2 separate regions of the Homo sapiens genome follow, and region 2 is linked to region 1. A link means that fine-mapping ties the variant in region 1 to the expression of a gene that starts in the linked region. Tissue or cell type: nucleus accumbens. Region 1 holds a variant in brackets; the other region holds the start of a gene. All regions are shown on one strand. Distances are between the middles of the regions.

The links. PIP is the estimated chance that this variant, and not a neighbour inherited with it, causes the effect.
Region 2: it holds the start of TLCD5, and the variant in region 1 is the best candidate, but not a certain one, in a credible set for the expression of TLCD5 in nucleus accumbens (GTEx, PIP 0.54).

The regions. Positions count from the first base shown.
Region 1 is chr11:120,419,449-120,430,136 of GRCh38, forward strand. It overlaps ARHGEF12 (Rho guanine nucleotide exchange factor 12), which reads left to right. Exons shown (of 41, transcript NM_015313.3): 5 at 1,305-1,403; 6 at 2,355-2,404; 7 at 4,910-4,967; 8 at 8,621-8,799; 9 at 9,992-10,069; 10 at 10,264-10,383. Among named protein-coding and RNA genes, the nearest start is that of GRIK4, 87 kb to the right of the region's middle. The variant G/A (reference allele first, on the strand shown) is at 4,704.
Region 2 is chr11:120,319,600-120,330,287 of GRCh38, forward strand. TLCD5 (TLC domain containing 5) reads left to right here and starts at 5,700. Exons shown (of 3, transcript NM_001198671.2): 1 at 5,700-5,769; 2 at 7,842-8,041; 3 at 10,378-10,688. The coding sequence starts at 7,843. It overlaps POU2F3 (POU class 2 homeobox 3), which reads left to right. Exons shown (of 13, transcript NM_014352.4): 13 at 1-346. RefSeq lists silencers at 3,113-3,272, 5,645-5,934, 6,005-6,064, an enhancer at 5,309-5,453 and a cis regulatory region at 5,381.

The DNA of each region.
Region 1 (10,688 bases):
TTGACGATTTCCTTTTGTGTTATCTTATGAAAAATTTTAGCTTATGTTTAGGCCCATGATCTGCTTTAATTTTTGTGTAGGTCATGAGTTCAAGGGTTAAGGTTCATGTTAAGCTACAGTAGGCTCATGTACTCATGATGTGTCATTATCAGCAAAAATAGATATGTATATACACTGTGTGTATATATATATAATTTGTTATATGTATATGTTTTCTATGAGCCATTGTACACACAGTCTATATATATTTTTTATTAACATATCTTTAGCATATCGTTTGGTTGGTAAATCAGACTTATATTTAAAAGATTGTGGCTTTTTGTATAAAAATCTTTAGAAAAAGTTTTTATTTTCTATTCATTATCTTTGTGTTGTTTTACCTGTTTTATATATTGACTTCGGTGAAATGCTTAGATCCTGCAAAGCTGAAAATATATGTTGTCTCTGGCTAACACAGAGTTCAAGATCTTCAGATCTGGTCTATGATAAAACAGCCCTGGGTACTAATCAGGGTTCTACCCTGGCAGGACATTTCTATTCCTCTGGCTGGGGCCCTCTTTCTCTCACCTTGCCCTGACAGTTTTCATTTGCTGTTTAGAAGAAACACAAATTCTCCCTTAGGAATCAGGTAAGTATATGAAAGAGATGAAGGAACTGGTTGAGCTCACAGATTCTTTATCTTTTCTATTTTTTTCTCTTTTCTGTTTCTGTTTTCTATAAGCCAGGGTTTTTCTTCCCCCTGAACTCTTCCTTTCTCTTCCCTTCTTTGGGGAATAACTTCAGGTACTCTGTAAGCACCTCCTTTCTTTTTACTGTTTTCCTGAGTATATTTTCTTGAGAGTGAGACTGGATTTCTGCAGAATTTTCCTTGAGATGCTCCTAGCCCCATGTCCTAAGATGGTTGATTTTTCTTGGGTTAAACACCAATTAGGGTACCAAAAACTCAGGGCAGTGGGGCAGGGGGAGAATTTTTTTACTACAGAGAAATAGCATGGATGTGAATGGGCTTTCCTTCTAGCTGTCTCATGTCTAATACTTAATATTTTGCAGTTTGCCATAGCTGTTTTTAATATTGGAGCAATTCTATTATACTCCGCCAGTGAGAAAACAGTATGTGTGACTCTGTGGTGTTCTTGTGTTTGCTTTGTTGATGGTGGTTAGTGTTCTTATTTTACCATGTGGATTTACATGTGCTACTTTTTGTTTCTCCAGATGGAACACAGTTTATTACTAATATATAATTATTGTCTTTTCCTTTCTCTGTTTTCTCTTCCTTCTTGTTTTACACTGTGGTTCTTGTGCAGGTCTTGTTCAGCGTTGCGTAATCATCCAGAAAGATGACAATGGATTTGGGCTGACGGTCAGTGGAGACAATCCAGTCTTCGTACAGTCTGTCAAAGAAGGCAAGGCATTTTAAAAAACAATTTATCACTCAGTAAACAGAGTAAGAATAGAAAAGCTTAAATAATGGCAATTGCCAAGAATAGAATAATTACATAGATTGCAGGTCATGTGGACTATTGTGCTAGATTCGTCTATCATGTCATAGTTACAGGAAGGAGTTTACTCCAGTTGATTTTTTTTTGTACTTGTTAGAAAGAAATCAGTTTTTATTTAGTTTTAGAAATCATGTGACTCCTTGGTCATGATACTTTATTGTCCACACAAAAGTTTCTGAAATTTCAGTTTTCCATGGCACCACTGATATTTTGGCAAAGACAGATTAAAGAGATAGCTATGGCTTCAGAAATACCATTTATTTTCCCAAAACAACAGTGATAATATTTTCTACTGCTGTTACCATATATTGAATACTTCCTTTATGTTGGGTGCTATAATTTTGAGGTAGACAATTTTTTTATCCCCATTTTATAGGTGATATTGAGGCTTAGAGTAAAGAAACATCAAATCAGTCCAAGGTCACACAACTAGTGAGTGGCAGAAGCAGCATTTGAATGTAAAGTCTGACTTTACAGCCTTGTTTTTTTTTTTTGTTTTTTTTTTTTTGGAGATGGAGTCTCCCTCTGTCACCAGACTGGAGTGCAGTGGCACAATCTAGGCTCACTGCAACCTCTGCCTCCTGGGTTAAAGCGACTCTCCTGCCTCAGCCTGCCGAGCAGCTGGGACTACAGGCACGTGCCACCACACCCAGTGAATTTTTGTATTTTTAGTAGAGACGGGGTTTTACCATGTTGGCCAGGATGGTCTCGATCTCTTGACCTCGTGATCCGCCCGCCTCGGCCTCCCAAAGGACAGCCCATGTTTTTAACCAGTTTGTTATACTGTCTCTCTGTCAGGAAGATGATCAGTAAATGCAAATGAATCACATTTTAAGCAATTAATTTCTCATACAGATGGAGCAGCCATGCGGGCTGGAGTACAGACAGGTGATCGAATCATCAAGGTAAGGAATAGGCTATTATAGAATTTACGGTAGGATTAAAAAACAACATATATTGGTCATATTCTGATTTTTTTCACTTGGATTTTTATAAAAAGCATCATACTTCTATGTATGATAGATCTGTTGACTATACAAACTTATTTCATTTGTTTTAAAATTAATACTACCCTTTACTGAAGGACGTAATAAAAGGATTGAAAATAATGGAGGAATATATGTTCTTGAGTAGGAGAGTAATTCAGGGTTGGAAAGATCATTTCTGTCTAGATTAGTCTGTTATTAAGCAATTCTCATCAAAGTACAAGTTGAACATTTCTAATCTGACACCTGAAATGCTCCCAACTCTGCAAGTTTTTGAGTACCAACATGACACCATGAATGGAAAATTTCACACCTGACCTCATGTGATGGGTCACAGTCAAAAGTTGGTTTCACCAGGTACAGTAGCTTGAGCCTGTATTACCAGCTACTCAGGAGGCTGAGGTGGGAGGATTGCTTGAGTGCAGGAGCTGAGACTGCAGTGCACTTTGATCATACCTGAGAATAGCCACAGCACTTCAACCTGGGCAATATAGTGAGACCCTGTCTTTACAAAACAAATAAAACCAAACCAAAACAAAAAACTTGGTTCCATGCACAAAAGTATTTAAAATGTATAAAACTACCTTCAGGCTATGTGTATAAGGTATATATGAAACATAAAAGGCTCATATTTAAACCTGGGTCTGATCCCCAAGATGTATCATTATGTATATACAAATATTCCAAACTTCAAAAAAATCCAAAACACTTCTTCTGGTACCAGGTATTTCAGATAAGCGATACCTGACCTGTATGCAAATAGAATTGTAGTGGTAGATGTCTATCTGATTATTCTTCCAGATGAACTTTATAAAGATATAAGAATCACTAAAGATAAAAACATGTTATATGTATGTGTATGTATGAGAAGAGATGTATATGACTCTAATCTAGATATAGACCTACCAGTGGAACACAACAGAGAGACTAGAAATAGATTTTGAATTCAGATCAGTAGAGAAAGAATGGGTTAGTTAGTAACTATTCTTTAAATAATTGACTAATTTGATTACTTAAAATCAAATTATTACATAAGAAAACATACCATGAAAAATAATTTGGAAGAAATATCTGAAACGTATCACAGACCAGATATCCTTAAATTTAAAGAACACTTTTAAATTATAAGAAAGGAATAAATATTCTAAAAGAAAAATGGGCAAAGAATTTTATCAGGCAGTTCCCTAAAGTAACTGAAATACATAACATATTAATGAGGATATGGCCAACCTCACTGATAACAAAGAAGAAGAAATTAAAATGATAGGTGAAAAATACATTTGGCTGTCAGAAAATTTAAAGATTGGTAATACACATTTAGTATAGTTTGGGTATGGTAAAATGACTATTCTCATGAGTTCGTTGTGAGTATAAATTAGGTAAAACCTGTTTGGATGAAAGTCTGTGAATATGTATCAAAAGCCTTTAAGAAAGTATATAACATGTGACAAGCAATTTTGCTTTTAGGAACTTATCTGAGGAAATAAGTGTACAAATGTGAAGTCGTGTGTACAGGGAAATTTGTACTGGCTTTATTACATAACTGTGCATAAACTGAGGGACAGAGAAATAAATTATATTCCATTTGCAGCTTTTGAAAAGAATGGATTAGGTCAGTGTGTATCTTTATTGAAAGATAGCTGCCGTACAGTGAAAAAAAAGTTTTATTTTTTTTTTCCAGGAAAAAGCCAGTCGTAATGTATAATGTTTATGTGTCTCTTTGGTGTGTGTATACTAGAAAAGTGTCTCCAAAATTAAATGTCATAGCTAACAGTAACTGCCTCATGGGGCAGGATGAGTATACTTGTACTTCTGTTTTTTACACTGATATATTTGTATTTTAGATAACTTGGATCAGAGAATTAATCAGAAAATTAATGTTAAATCCACATTTGATAGTTTTGCCTTGATTTGTTTGGTTTAATTCAGAATCGGGATAACATTTTCTACATTTAGCCGGTCTGAAAATTAATTTTCTTTGTGAAGATTAGATCATGGTTGAAAAACTAAAAGCAAATTGAATATTGTGGAAATACTTATTTTAAAAATTATTTTTTATTATTAATTTTGACAAATTGATGACTTGGTAATTAAAAGCAAAGAGATCTTTTCTATTTGTATGAGCCCTTCACCGTGAACGATTTGTAAATCTGTTTCATGTTATGTTTTGTCATTTGTCATGGTGAATAAGTTGTACTGTTTTGTATGTCAAGGCCTC[G/A]GTTTATGTTTAAGTTCATTTTGTTGCTGAATATGCCCTGTAGAATCATGGTGTGAAAATGAATATTGAATCAAATACATAAATATTTTAATGTAATGTGATTACTATATTATATTGGTTATATTATGTATGATAATTCTTGAAGTCATTTTATCCATTGTCTCAATAGAATGTATCTGACATACACTACTTTCGTTTTCTTACAGGTGAATGGAACTCTGGTGACTCATTCAAATCATCTGGAGGTGGTGAAGCTAATCAAATGTAGGTGAATGTTATTCTTAGTTTTAATTGTTTTCTGAAACCCTTAAAGTAAGGAGCAGCAAATTTCCTGTAATAGGCCAAATAGTAAATATTTAGGCTATGTGGACTATATAGTCTACTGCCGACTCTGTCATTGTATCATGAAAGCAGCCATAGACTATATGTAAATGAATGGGTGTGGCTGAGCTTCAGTAAAACTTTATTTGCCAAAAGTCTGTGATCCTGGTTTAGCCCCTTGGCTGGAGTTTGCTGATCCCTGCATTGAAGGAAAATCTGAGGTGAAAACTCTTAGCTTACTAATAGCTATCTTTTGTCAACTCCATTTATATGGTTGATTATAATATTCCTGTCATTCTTGGTAATATTTGATACATATATTTGAAAGAAATGCATGAGTCACCTGAGAGGAAGGAGGTTGAGAAGTCAGACATATGGCCTGATGAACTGAAATGGAACTTTAAAAATCATCTAGCACAATCACTTTCCCTCAGATAAGTAAATGATTATATAATCCAGAGTAGCGATCTTCTCTTGGAAATCTTTAGGGTTAAGAATTTGTGATCTTCAGGTTTGAGTGAATAGCCCACTTGGACTTAGTTCTCTGTGGAGAAACAGGCTTGAAGCAGTGGGAGTCTGCAGCTAACCTCCCGTCACTTGCAGGGTCAAAGGTGGATTCACGAACCTCGAGCTGGCAGTGAGTTATGGGCAAGCCAGGCCTCAGCCACTCACAGGGCCTCAGTTTTCCCATCTGCACAGGGAGAAGGGAAGGTTCAGTGGCCCTGTGAGCTTTGCTAGCAGGTGGTGATGGGGTGGGTCATCTGAATCTGAGTCAGGTGGAATCTTCCCCAACCTGGGCTTTGGTTTCATTTTGTTGTTATCCTTTAACCTTACCTGCTTTCCAAGAGAGATTTTATGTTTTCTTGGTTTTTTTTTTTTTTTTGTTTGTTTGTTTTTAGGGTAGGGTCTTGTAGAATGCAATGGTGCAATTATAGCTCACTACAGCCTCCAACTTCTGGGTTCAAGTGATCCTCCCACCTTGTTTTTTGTTTTTTGTTTTGTCTTGTTTTTTTGGTAGAGACAGGGTTTTGCTGTGTTCCCCAGGCTGCTGTCAAACTCCTGGGCTCACCCATCTCAGCCTCCTAAAGCGCTGGGATTACAGGCACGAGCCACTATACCTGGCCAAGATTTTATATTTTCTAATTGCTTCACATACTGAATGGAAAATAGCATGACAGTTATAACAGAAGTAAAGAAAGTCACATGAGAGTCCACCACCTAAAATATAACTTCCTTTTTCTTTGTTCTGGCCTGGTTTGGGCCGTATGTATTTGTTATTGTATCTCTTAAAAAAAAAAAAAAAAAGAGAGAGACTGCTTGAACTGAATGAAATTTTTTTAAAAAAGGAATTAAAAAAAGAATTTATGATCTTCTGCATCAGATTATTCCACAGTAAAGTAGACTAGAAATAAGAGATAGTTGTTTGTGATCAATCAGAATCACTACTGTTTTATTTAATTCTGTTTCTCTGTATTGGGTGGATGGACATCTTCAAAAGAAATTTAATAAACTAACTTTTTTCTTGGCCTTTTTACTGCTATGTTAAGCAACTATGAAATTTTTTAAACTTTTTCATCAGAGTACCAGTGCTCCAAATGGTCACTTTGATCAGCGTTCTTTAGTTTAAAAGAGTGCAGTGATCAAAATTAGATCCCCATACTTGAATAAACTTGACCACTTATTTAATGAGAATGTGATTTATAAATTGTTATGTGCTGCATAAATATGGTTTATGTTAATGAGTTTATGCCTGATGTCCATTGAGGTGTATAAAAACATTTCTTTAGCTTTCTAGGTTATATTTTTTGCTCATTCCAGTATAAATTTTACTTAAAAAATTAAATCCTGGGATTCTAGCAATAAATTACTTACCCAATAGTAAGGGCATAGCTAAAAACTTAAAGTAAAGCATAAAAACCTCTGCATATCCAAAACTGATGTAAATTTGACATCACATCTGTAAAGCCTGGGTGTATGTAACAGAGTTCCTGCATGTCCTACTTTCTAATGTGTATTCTGGATATAATAAAAGTGATATCAAATCAGAGCAGTTTAGAAACAGCTAAAGAAAGGAAGGGAAAAGCTAGGAAGCTATTAAAACCAAATACATAGGCAAGTGAGATATAATAGATGACTTTCTGATAGAGAGCAATAAGATTGAAGAGCCTTAGAAAGTGTTTATATGTAAAATTCCTCCAAATTATAACACTTGTGAGTATTATACATAGCAAAACTAGTTTTTAGAACACCAAAACACTGTGAAATAATTGATAATGATTTCCATGGGAGGGTTAAATTGGGAGACAAGTGTGAAATACATTTAAAAGTTCTATTGAAATATCTAAGAAAAAAGTTTTGCCATATCTATTACTGACTCTGATTATGGTGTTTTTTTTTGTTTTTGTTTTTGTTTTTGTTTTTTGAGACGAATTCTTGTTCTGTCACCCAGGCTGGCGTGCAGTGGCGCAATCTCGGCTCACTGCAACCTCCGCCTCCCAGGTTCAAGTGATTCTCCTGCCTCAGCTTCCCTAGTAGCTGAGACTACAGGCATGTGCCACCACGCCCGGCTAATTTTTTGTATTTTTAGTAGAGACTGGGTTTCACCATGTTAGCAAGGCTGGTCTTGATCTCCTGAACTTGTGATCTGCCTGCCTCAGCCTCCCAAAGTGCTGAGATTACAGGCATGAGCCACCATGCCTGGCCTGATTATGGTGATTTTTGCTGTCTAGATTCCCGCCCCCCGCAATATGTCTACTGAATTCCTGTCCATTCCTCCAAATATTTTCTACTAAAATTTACTACTTATTATTGATTGTGTTTTTCCCTGTTATTGTGGAATATTTTTTGGTCATACTCATTTTGTAAAGTTAATTTAAAATTGCATTTTATGTTCTAGCATATTCACTAAACCCTGCCTAGTTAGTGTCATCTTAAAATATGAAGATCTAGGCCAGGTGCTGTGTCTCACACCTCTAATCCTAGCACCTTGGGAGGCCAAGGCGGGTGGATCGCTTGAGCTCAGGAGTTTAAGACCAGCCTGGGCAACATGGCGAAACCCTATCTTTAAAAAAAAAAAACATTGCAGCTACTTGTGGGGGCTGAGGAGGGAGGATTGCTTGAACCCAGGAAGTCGAGGCTGCAGTGAGCTGAGATCGTGCCGCGGCACTCCAGCCTGGGTGACAAAGTGAGACCCTAATTAAAAAAAAAAAAGAAGATTTAAAAAATTTACATTTAAGAAATTAATTAAACATAGCCACTAATAGATGGTTGATTTTAACACTCCTCTAAATAAAGAAAATATATAATATATTCTTGGAGTTATAAATTTTATTTGCTTTTAAGTAATATCTGATCTTACTAGTAGTAACTTGCTATCTGAAAACGGCATCATTCTTTTGGATTTTTAGGGCAGTCATAAAAGAGAAATGACAAATTAGTTTTTTTTTCTGTGGAGACATGATGTAGCAGATGATGGGACTGTCTTACATAACTGGATCTTTTAGAACTATCGAAGATTAAGTAGTAAAATGGTATAAAAAGTTTCTTGACAATGTTATTTTCCCTTCCCTTCCCTTTTTCCGTCTCCCCACCCCAAGCTGGTTCCTATGTAGCTCTCACTGTTCAGGGACGCCCACCTGGGTCGCCCCAGATTCCACTTGCCGACTCTGAAGTAGAGCCGTCAGTCATTGGACATATGTCTCCCATCATGACATCTCCTCATTCACCTGGAGCATCTGGGAATATGGAGAGAATCACTAGTCCTGTGCTCATGGGGGTAAGAATGGGGAAATTTCTTAGTTAAATGCTCAGTCTTATAAGGATGTGTTTACTTTATATGGAGAGTTTTCAAGTATTCGGCTGATGAACTAATTAAATTTAAGATTTTAGAAAATGATTTACTAATATAAAAATTACATAATAGGAATGATTAGAATATTGTCATAGCAGATTTAATTTAACAAGTATTAGACACCTGCCATATGTAAAACAGTGTGCCACCCACAGAAATATAGTTAAGGTACTCTATGTTCAAGATTATAGTCATCTTAGAATGTGTACTTTTAGGAGGGCGGGGATTTTTGTTTATTTTGTTTACTGTTACGTTTCCAGTACCTGAAATATTGCTTAGCATGTAGAAGGTGCTTAACAAAGCTTTGTTGATTGAGATTAAGTCAAGAGTATACAAGTAACTATAATACAAGGCAGAATGTAGACATTATGAGGGCAAAAAAAATGCTAAGTTCTATGAGGATTCAAAGGAGGGAGAAAGCACATAGAAGAAGAACAATAAATAGAAGGAGCCAAAAAAGCATCAAATATTGTGGAGAAGTAGCTAGGATTTTTGGTTGGTTGGTGCCTGTTAAGGATGTGCATAGTGGGAGATGAACTTGAAAATAGTAGGTTGACTATATATTTTGAAAAGTCACATCTCCCAAGCTAATTTACATGTAACTAGATAAGCAGTAAGAATCCATTCAATGTTGTTTCTTTTTAAGCAAAAGAGTACATGATTATCCTAGGATTATAGGAAGACTAATTTGGTAAAATATTATAGGGTTGTGAAACAAGGAGGGATGATGGGTGATGAATTAGGGAGCTGTCTTCATATTTCAGGTAAGAGGTACTGGGAGTTTGAGCTATGCATGGGGATCGATAGTAAAGATCCAAATGAGGGAAAGTAAAAGATACTATTCTTATACTAAGACAACTTCATTTCTCCAATATCAATATTTAGTGTTCTCTTGAATCCAGTTTAGTAAAAATGAAATAGAAGGGCAGACATTTCCTTGTAGTTTCTTGTAAGTGTCATGTCTGAAAGCCTGTCCACATAACCCGGAAGTAAAAACCTAATAGGTATTGATAATTGGAGCCGAGGCAGAACTTTGTATGCCACATTTTCTCTATTTATTTTAGCTTCATTTTGTCTATACTGGTTGTTGTTTGTTTTTTATCTTTTTCTTTTCTAGGAGGAAAACAATGTGGTTCATAACCAGAAAGTAGAAATTCTGAGAAAAATGTTACAGAAAGAACAGGAACGGCTACAGGTATTAAATGAGAAGTAGGGCTGTTTACAGGCCAATAAAAATGTGAGTGGGCATGGTTGAGTTGGTGTTTATCAGTCACAATCAAGCAGCATTGTAACCAATGCCATTAGTTATATTATTGATTAAGAATGGACTATTTCTGTATCTTTTTTACATAAGTAATTAATTCTGAAAATATTTTTATAACTTTTCAGTTATTGCAGGAAGATTACAACCGAACACCTGCCCAAAGATTGCTAAAAGAGATCCAAGAGGCCAAGAAACACATTCCTCAGCTGCAAGAGCAGTTATCCAAAGCCACAGGCTCTGCTCAGGTAGCATCACTATTACAAGTGCTACCCAACTTTTTGCAGGAGAATTTTCTTCTGGGAATGTGTCAGAGAATGTTGCAGTTGCCTTTTTTAAAGTTATTTTTCTAGCGTAGGACAACAGGATGTCCTGTTAAGGATGTTACAGAAGTAATGATTAACAAAAATAAATGTGGGCGTCTGATTGTTTGCTTGCTCATGAGATCACATTTCTTTGTTCCATAATAATTTAAAAAAGAATTGAGTGCTTTTGCTTTGATGTGACAAACTACTAAAATGTATTTAGATATATATATATATTTATATTTTTT
Region 2 (10,688 bases), 100 kb before region 1:
TTAGCCCAGCTAATTTTTGTATTTTTAGTAGAGATGGGGTTTCACCATGTTGGTCAGGCTGGTCTTGAACTCCTGACCTCCTGATCCACCCACCTCAGCGTCCCGAAGTGCTGGGATTACAGGTGTGAGCCACCGCGCCTGGCCTGGGCTGGGAATCTTTGTTGACTTCTTTGGGAACATTATCTCTAGAGTCTGCTTTTTTGTGGGCCAGTTTGTAGAGATGTAACATGAAGCCATTCCAGAAATGGTAACTTAAAAAAAAAAAGACTACATGTCTAGGAAACTGTTGAGATTCAAAGGAATCTCACTGTTCCTAAATAAATGTGTATAGTGATTATGAAAAGTATCCCACTGTTGATAAGAAGAGGTTTAGATTCTTGTTCTGTGCCTTTTTGTTGTTGTGGGGGGCATGTGAGTGCATATAATGAAATGGGATGACAGAAAATGTTTCAAATTGGGACATTAAGTGTATTACTCCCCAAACTGATGCTAAAGATGACATATGTTATTACAGGGCCCTGAAGAATTCAGAGTTGTTACTCTCTGTAACATAACTACCTTGAGGGCAGAGTAGGCCAGAGATATTGTAAGTGGGAGGATGGTGAATGTTTAAGGTGAAGTCATTTGAAACTTAAGAGGTGGGGACTGAGGCTAATGTCTCATGTCTCAGATACCCTGAACGGCAGTTGTTCATTACTCACAACATAAAGCAATAAATAGTTAAGGCAGAGGGTAATTTAATAATCACATATTAGCTGGGCTTGGTGGTGTATGCCTGTAGTCCCAGCTACTGAAGAGCCTGAGATGGGAGGATCTATTAAGCCCAGGAAGTCAAGGCTGCAGTGAGCAATGATCATGCCGCTGCACTCCAGCCTGAACAACAGAGTGAGACCCTGTCTCAAATATACATATTTGTCTCATGTATATATATATATATATATATATATATATATATATATATATGGCTTCAGAATGCATTGTGACTTTTGGTTAGGAGGTTGAAAGGCAGCAAACCTATTCTTGTGTTTTTTCTTAGATTAATACAAATTTAAATAGTTACCGTTGGAGCCTGCAGTGAGCCAAGATTGTGCCACTGCACTCCGGCCTGGGCGACAGAGCGAGACTCCGTCTCAAAAAATAAAATAAGTAATAAATAGTTACCATTACTGAGATAAACGCTGACCTGTGGGAAAGAGAGGCCCTTCAAAAATGTAATGGCTGATGGGGAAAAACTAAAATTAGGATTAAACACTTCTTGCAAATAATAATATCCACACAGGAAACCTAAATATTAATAATGAAGAGTTAACCGCTCCCTGATGTTTGAATGGGGCTTTAAAAATTCCTATTTCACGTCATGAAGTGGGAGAAGGCCTAATGGTAATGTTTACTTTCTCAAGAAAATATCTAGTTAAAAGGGGCCAGGTATGTAGCAAAGAGACAGCAAGAGGAGCCTTCCGCAGTACTTTAAGTAACTAAGGGGACTGCTCCACCACCCATGAGCCCATCTGTGCATATCTCTGCACACATACACATGCATGCATGCATTCCTCCCTGTATGCCCATGGATGCTAGAGCTGACCCTTTTCTACAGAAGTCCTGGCTACCTTGACATCCTACTCAGGTGAGTGCTGAAAGCTGATCCTCTGCATTGTCCAAAACTTGGATTTTCATCCATTTGCCCGTGATTTTTTATGAAAGAAATAAACAGAATTGTAGCCTGTTCAGACTCCAGTAGCTTTCCTTGCCAACTAACTTGGACATTGCTGAACAGAATCAAGCCTGAAAGTGAGCAAGGTCACCTTTCATGTCTGCATGATTCTGTAAAATCTGTAATTCCAGGGAAGTTTAACTGAAGCTTGATTCGCCGCCTCAGCATCTAACTAGGGACAAGAGAATCTGAGGGCAACCACCAGTCATTGCCAAGGGAGGAAAAAAAAAAGATTGTTGTTGCTACATTTCAAATTGTATTTTTTTTTTTTTTGACATGGTGTCTCACTCTGTCACCCAGGCTGGAGTGCAGTGGCACGATCTCGGCTCACTGCAATCTCCGCCCCCCAGATTCACGCCATTCTCCTGCCTCAGCCTCCTGAGTAGCTGGGACTACAGGCGCCCGCCACCACGCCCAGCTAATTTTTTCTATTTTTCAGTAGAGACGGGATTTCACCATGTTAGCCAGGATGGTCTCGATCTCCTGACCGCGTGATCCGCCTGCCTTGGCCTCCGAAAGTGCTGGGATTACAGGCGTGAGCCACCGCGCCCAACCGAACTGTATTTCATACTCTGATGTTTAGTTGACTCAAAACGGGTGGGCCCAGCTCTGCCCTCCTAAGACAAAGTAAGAACTTTTGGTCTGACTCAGAGACTGAGTTTATTAACCCTAGGACTCAAAGCAGGAACCCTGGCCGGAGCTCCCAGGTTGCCAGGGTTCCTCTTGTGCTCTGTGTGGCCCCACCATAGCTCACCTGCTGACTCTTCTGCCTCTTCCTTCTGTGGGGGGAACTCCTTGCAGTTGAGGCTTTTTTTTTTTTTTTCTGTATCCCTGTGGCTAACATTGTGACTAGCACATAACAGGCAGTTATGTTTTTTAAATATAAAATTCCCTTTTTTTCCCTCTAAATTTTTAATGCCCTTCACTGAGATAGGAGTTGTGAATACAGCAGAATACAGTGCAAACCTGCAGGAATTTTTAGGTAAGTGGAGGCAGCATATCACAGTGGTTAAGGGCATTGTCATGCCAGACCCCTATTGACTTCAGGAGGGATAGCACCAGATTCAAGAGGCCAGAGACCAAGAGCCAACAAATGCGACATAGGGTTTGTTGAGGGGAACTTACATAAGAGGGATCCGGTGGCAACAGGCTGGACAGGAGAACCACCACTGCCTGCAGAAAGCACGCAGTTTACATGGCACTCTCATCTAACACCCTCCCGCTAACAACCTCCACCTGGCAACCTTCATTTACCCCAAAACAAAGGGCCTCAGCCCCCTGTATGGCCCATGTTCCAAGGGCTGGGCCAGGGGCTCAGATGTTCCTCATACATAAGGAATAATCTCTGGGTTGGCCACGCTTGGAACACTAGACACACATTCAGGTGTGTCTGCCACACAGGGTCATTCTCAGGTTATACTTAAGTTACCGCTGTCAGGTGCATCTGCCATACAGGCGTGATCTCCAGAGTCATATTGCCTGGGTTTGTACCCTACTCTGCCTCCTACTAACCGTGTCATCTTGGGAAAGCCTTGACTGCTCCATGACTCAGTTTCTCACCTGTAAAATGGAGATAACAATAGGTCCCATCCCATAGAATTGTTTGTGAGGATTGAGTGTGTGTATATATATATGTGTGTGTATGTGTATGCATATATATGTGTGTGTGTGTATACATATATATGTATATGTGTATATATATGTGTGTGTGTGTGTGTATATATATATATATGTAGTGCTTGGAACAATGCCTGGTACATTAATAAGGGCAGTATAGGTGTTATTTGTTATTATTGTGATTATTATTCTCATTGCTATTAAATTGGTGGAGAGCTTCCTGTCCCCTGCTCTCCTTAACAGCCCAGAATTTCTGGGGGATGCTACCGGTGACAAGGATCTGATTTGGTGGAACAGGGATTGTGGCCAAAGATACATACATCAACAAAATTTAATCCTAGGTCATGAAGCTTGAACCTAGAATCCCAGTCACCCTAGGATAAAGGCCCAATATTTTAGGAAGAACTGGCTCCTTCCCTTTTACCTTACCCCCTCAGCCTTTAGGCTCCTGAAGGCTTTAGTACCCTACTTTTGTGGGAAATGATGGCAGCAAGAAGAAAGTCCAGATTCAGATACTAGAAAAAAAATACTGCAACAAAACAAATGGGGGAAAGGGTGAGCTCTGCATACTCTCCATTCAGTGAAGTGGAGCCTTCCATGTTTTACTTCTCCAGACTATCATTACCTGTTATCCGGTCTATCCTAACACATGTGTAACAGGCCTTCTGCAATTCATCTTACACTGATTTTAATTGAGTATTGCTAGAGCTGGGGTTCTCAACTTTGGTTGCACATTGGAATCACCCAGGGAGCTTTTAAATTGATTGATATCTACACAGAGATTCTGATTTACTTTTTTCGGAGTGTGCCCTGGGTATTAGGATTTTAAATAGCTCCCAAGTGATACTACCATGCTATCAAGATTAAGAACTACGACCCAAATGTGTATACGAATCACTGGGGAACTTGTTAAAATGCACATTCTAGTTTGGTAGGTCCAGGGGTAGGTTCTGAGATTCTGAGTCTCTAATGAACTCCAAGGTGATGCAGATTTTGCTGGTCCATAGACCACACTTTGAGTAGCAAGGGCTTGGAGAGCATGATAATATGATTCCCTTGTTCAATAACATCATGAGCTTCCACATAATAAGCTCTCTCAGCCTGGCATCTTAGGCTGGCATCAGAGGCATTTAAGGACTCTAACAGCAATGGTTATCAAATGTGATCGTCTGAATGACTCCTGGGCAGGTTTTAAAAAATACAGATCCCTGGACCCCATACCAGACCTAATAAATCATAATATTCAAGGTACAGCCTGCACAGGGTATTTGAAAACACTTCCCAAGTGGCATAGTTGATCAACACACTTTAGGAACTGTGATATGCTTCCAAGATAGTTTCCCAGGCTCATTTCACATTAATTCAACATACAAACATTTATTGTACCTGCCTCATGCTAGGTACTAGGGAAACAAAGATGAAACCAGTGCCATCCTTACCTTTGAAGAGTTGGTAAGATAAATGACCAAAACTAGAATATTTACTATTCCCCAGGCACGGCCTAAACACTCACACCTCTGCTAACGGTCTTCTCCTTTGAGAATGTCTAGGTTCCTCAGCACCCGGGATTGCCTGTCCTGATCAATCAAGACAGACACCGTCTTTACCCCATTCGAGCCTCCATTCTTATCGCTCAAACTTACTCTGCTTGGTATTAAAATAGAACCAGAGAAGAAAAGGATTTACCCAAAGTGAAATAAAACAGTTGGTATTTATGTAGTGACTTCCATGTGCCAGTCATTGTTCAAAGCACTTTACACATGTAATATTTTAAAATTCTCAAAATAACCATATGAGATAGGTGTTATTACTATCCCCATCCTCAGGATCGAGGAAAGGGAGGCAACAGAAAAGTAACTTGCCCAAAGAGGTACCAAGCAAGGTTCACTTTCAAGCCTTATGCTTTACTGTCAAGTTGGTTACAGGGCTGACTGGAATACTGTAACTTCTAATTCTCAGGCCTGAGCACTTTCCTGCTCATCAATTCCTGTTTCACGACTTAAATTCAAGCACGAGGGCAAGAACGATGTCTTACATCCCCCACAATGCCTAGTAAGGGTGCAAGTACTTAGTAGGTACTCGATAAATTGATTGGATGAGCTGTCCCATTGAGGGGAGGGGAGAAGTGGATAATGATTTAAACAAACAACAACAGCTAAACAAGAGCAGCGGCCTCCAGGTCTCACGTCACCGCTAGATCCCTCTTGACCCCCCCGCCAGAGAAGGAGGACCCTCCCGCGCCCTTTCGGAGCGTCGGTGGCCCGGCTCCGGCTCTGCGCTCCATCCTCCCAGCCAGCAGGTGCCCCCAGACCCCCGGCTCCTCCTCCGCCGCCGTCACAGCCTCGTCCTCCGCCTCTGGCTCCTCCGCTTCCTGTTGCCGCGATCCGGGCCGGGAGCTGCGGGCGCCCGGGCGCCCGAGGCTTCCCGGTGCGCTCCGCCAGGTAACCGCTCGGCGCGAACTGCCCGGCCGGGGTGGGCACGGGGCCCGCGCGGCCCATTGGTGGGGAAGGAGGCGGCAGAGGGCCCGGGCTCGCCTCCGAAGGGGAGCGGGCCTCCTCCTGCCTCGGACGCCCGAGGCCTTCCTGCGCCAGGCTGCGGCGCCAGCGGGATGCGGGGATAACGGTGCCTGGCTCCGGCTCTTGGTCCGGGCGTGGCCGAGCGTCGCAGGCACCGCCGCGCGGAGATGCGATCGCCGTCCCTGCGAGGCCCCGGGGCCCGCGCTCGCCGCCAGCCACGCCTGCTCCAAGGCTCCTCCTCGCCAGTCTGGCCCTGGAACGGGAGAAACCAGGAGAGGAGCCTTGGACCTCTGAGCCGCGATGGCCTTCCAAATGCCCTTCCGTTCTTTGGCAAAAACCAAGAGCAAAAAGCCGAAACCCACACAGGGAGTTCCCAAGGTCACAGAGTTGTGTCTGCCATTTACGAATGTCTGTTCTTTTATTTAAGTGTTTGTAAATGGGCTACTGTTTTCTCTGTTCTGCCAAGGAATTAGGATTCAGAGAAGAAGACTCTAAAAATACTAATAGGCATATCCAAATGAGCTGATCCGCATTACTGGCCAGTGACCCTGGCCTTTAGAAGGAGATAAGGGAGGGCAGTTCTCTTCACCTGGGATACTTTGTATTTCTGGCCCTTACTCTGAGAATTGGCCTTGATGTTTTACAAAGTTTATCTCAGAACTCCATGTCAGAACTGGACCGGACTGTAGAGTTCTTCAGTCCTAGTCTCTTTCTTTCCTTTCCCTTCCTCCCCTTCCTCTTCCTTCTTTTCTTTTCTTTAATTTCTTCTTTTTTTTTTTAACTGTGGTTCTAGAGGTTAAAGTGATTTGCCCACACTCTTATGGCTAGTCTCTCTAGGGACAGAGACAGAATTGGAACCCAGGTCTATTATGGACACCTACGGTTTTCTTGAATGGAAATCTGATTTCAGATGAAAGCTGTACAGAACTTGACCTTCATGAAGCCCTCTCTGGATAGCATTCTTGGGAAGTGGCTTGTGTATTGACGTCCACAGATAACTATTTCACTGGTCAGAATAAGGTTAAGCAATAAGCATAGCCATGCAGAAAATGTCTGCTGAGATGAAGTAGATATCTGATATGTTTTTGACTTTTTATTTGTACGTTTCAATGGAGGAGCTAATGAATACTAACTAATAACAACATCTTGCTCATTTAGATTTTAGTCCTGTGTGACTAAATTGACTCAGTTATAGTTGTTCTTGTCCTAACGTATTTGTCACCAGTAAAAGTTCCAAGGTACAGCTTTCTGGCTTCATTTCATTTTTAACTGAATAATTGCCTTAAGGATATTTTTAGATCTCAACAAAAACTCCCCTCCTCTTGAACCTTAGAATCCTTCTGCTTCACTCTTGGCAAATCTTTGGGTCGGATTTCAGAACTGAATAAAGCCAGGATTTCCCCCCAACCTCCAAGATGTCTGGACTCTTTGTTTAGTTCTGTATTTAAGTTTATCCCAAGTTTTGTTTTTGACTGATGAACCTGTGACCCAAATCCAAACCTCAGCTGAATTTAGTATCAGCTTAAAACCACATTAAACTGCCATGTGTCATGTGACCTCTAGCAGAAACCAACGTGGCAGTGTTCTGTTTTTTCATGAGTGCGTTTCATTGGGGTTTTTGAACTGTGAAGACATTATTTAATACATGTGCTTTATTTTCTGTGTATTATTGCCCAAGGTCAGTCATCGCTAGAGGGTTATTATTGACATTTACTCATCATAAAATGTGATGTCAGCCTACCAGCTCGGAGTGCAGTTCCTGGTTTCCAGTTTACAACATTGACCAGTTGCTAACATGTTATCTCTGAGGAACTTGGAATGATAAATACAGCCATACTTAAATAGAAGATTCTTGGCCGTGTAGATAAGGAAAATAAGATAAGGCAATATTTTTGAACTATTCTATAATAGAAATGAGGATATATACACAAAATGACCCAGTGCTGTTTTCTTAGGGTGCATCCTTTGTTTTTCTGGTTTTGGTCTTTTCATCACAGGATGGCATTAGCTCTGTGTCTGCAGGTGCTGTGCAGCCTGTGTGGCTGGCTCTCGCTCTATATTTCTTTCTGCCACCTGAATAAGCACCGAAGCTATGAGTGGAGCTGCCGCCTGGTCACCTTCACCCATGGAGTCCTCTCTATAGGCCTCTCCGCTTATATTGGCTTCATTGATGGCCCATGGCCTTTTACCCACCCAGGTAGGTAGGGGATTTTCCCTTAGGGATTTATGATTTGGGGGTAGTCTTAGAAGTATGGGACTTTTAAACAGAATTTGTACAATACTGAAGACTAATTCCCATTATAATTTTGTATTGGAATCCTTATTCTTCTTCATTGTTAACTCTGATATTGTTTATGTCACCTGTTGTTTCTGCTTTTCATAACTCTCTACTTTTAAAACAGATTTTAAATTGCTTGTTACAATTTAATTGGAAATACAAAAACTATAAAGCCAGTATCAACATCTTCCACTACCACCCCCGAAAAGACAAAAATAGAACTGTATCATACATATTTTTGGCAACTTGCAACTTTTACTTGACTGTCTATTCAAAAGACAGCATCTTTCCATGTCTATGTTAAGAGGATGAGATGTTCCTTATCCTTTTTGTTACTAGATGTACAAGTGTTACTTTCAGAAGTATGCAATTTTTTTTTTTTTGAGATGGAGTCTTGCTCTGTTGCCCAGGCTGGGGTGCAGTGGCTCAATCTCAGCAAGCTCCGCCTCCCAGGATCACGCCATTCTCCTGCCTCAGCCTCCCGAGTAGCTGGGACTACAGGTGCCCGCCACCATGCCCAGCTAATTTTTTTTGTATTTTTAGTAGAGATGGGGTTTCACTGTGTTAGTCAGGATGGTCTCGATCTCCTGACCTCGTGATCCACCCGCCTTGGCCTCCCAAAGTGCTGGGATTACAGGTGTGAGCCACCGCACCCGGCCAAGTATGCAAAAATTTTACCCCCTTGTATTAATTGGTTGGGGCTGCCATAACACAGTACCACAGAGTGGGTGGCTTAACCAGATGTTCATTTTCTTAAAATTCTAGAGGCTAGAAGTCGGAGTTCAAGTTGTTAGCAGGTTTGGTTTCTTCTGAGGCCTCTGTCCTTGGCTTGCACATGGCCGCTCTCCCACTGTGTCCTTCCATGGTCTCCCCTCTGTGTGTGTGTGTGTGTATGTGTGTGTGTTTGTATATGTATGCATATCTGTGTCCTAATCCCTTCTAAGGATAACAGTCATAGTGTGTGTGTGTGTGTGTGTGTGTGTGTGTATGTTTATGTATGCATACCTGTGTCCTAATCCCTTCTAAGGATAACAGTCATATTGTGTGTGTGTGTGTGCGCGTGTATGTTTGTATATGTATGCATATCTGTGTCCTAATCCCTTCTAAGGATAACAGTCATAGTGTGTGTGTGTGTGTGTGTGTATGTATATGTATGCATATCTGTGTCCTAATCCCTTCTAAGGATAACAGTCATAGTGTGTGTGTGTGTGTGTGTGTGTGTGTTTGTGTATGTTTATGTATGCATATCTGTGTCCTAATCCCTTCTAAGGATAACAGTCATAGTGTGTGTGTGTGTGTATGTGTTTGTATATGTATGCGTATCTGTGTCCTTATCCCTTCTAAGGATAACAGTCATATTGTGTGTGTGTGTGTGTGTGTGTGTGTGTGTATGTATGCATATCTGTGTCCTAATCCCTTTTAAGTATAACAGTCATATTGGATTACTCTAATTACCCCATTTTAACTTGATTACCTCTTTAAAGACCTTATTTTCAAATACACTCACATTCTGAGGTACTACCAGTTAAGGGCTTTAACGTGAATTTGGGGAGGGAGGACACAATGCAGCCCTTAACTCCCCTGGAATATAATTTTTAAAATATTTCTTTAGCTTTTCTTACTGAATTTCTGAGTTTCCCCCCAAACTGTCAAACTAATGAAACCAACTGTTACGCTTTGTGTTTTATGTGAAGATTCTAAATGGTTTCAAATATGTCAGGTCCTTAAAACCTATGTTCCTGGACATGAGCACACACTAACTTTTGGGGCCCTCTCCAGAATCTACTTTCAGGATGGGTTAAGACCACTGAGTGTTCAATAACGTAACCCATTAAGCTGAGAAAAAAATCTGACATTCAGGAAACAATGATTCAAGAGTCTGGAAATAAACCTTTAGCAGAGTAAAAAAAAAAAATAAAGTTTAGGATTTTAATTGAAGGAACAAAATAATTGGATTTTATGCTGTTCCGCGGAGAGGATACTGAGATTATTGCCTGTGTTCATTGAAGGATGCAAACTCATTGAAGTCTGATTCATCAGAACAGCATTTCCTGGGGTCTGAACATCGTTTAGTTTGATAAAGACCTAGATTTTATATTTTAGTCTTTCTTTGGTCCTCATTAAAAAGCATGTGCCTGCTATTGTTTTTGTTTCTTTAGTGTCTAGTAAGGTTTGAAAGACAACAACATAGGATCCCTGTGCAAGGTAACACAATTCCCAGTCACTCAATTTGCTTCTGTCTTGGTTTGTTTCAGGCTCACCCAATACACCTCTCCAAGTTCATGTCCTGTGTCTCACCTTGGGCTACTTCATCTTCGACTTGGGCTGGTGCGTCTACTTTCAGTCTGAGGGTGCCTTGATGCTGGCTCATCACACATTGAGTATCTTGGGCATTATCATGGCCCTTGTGCTTGGGGAGTCTGGCACAGAGGTCAATGCAGTCCTCTTTGGAAGTGAGCTTACCAACCCCTTGCTACAGATGCGCTGGTTTCTCCGGGAAACAGGGCACTATCACAGTTTCACTGGAGATGTAGTGGACTTCCTCTTTGTGGCTCTGTTCACAGGA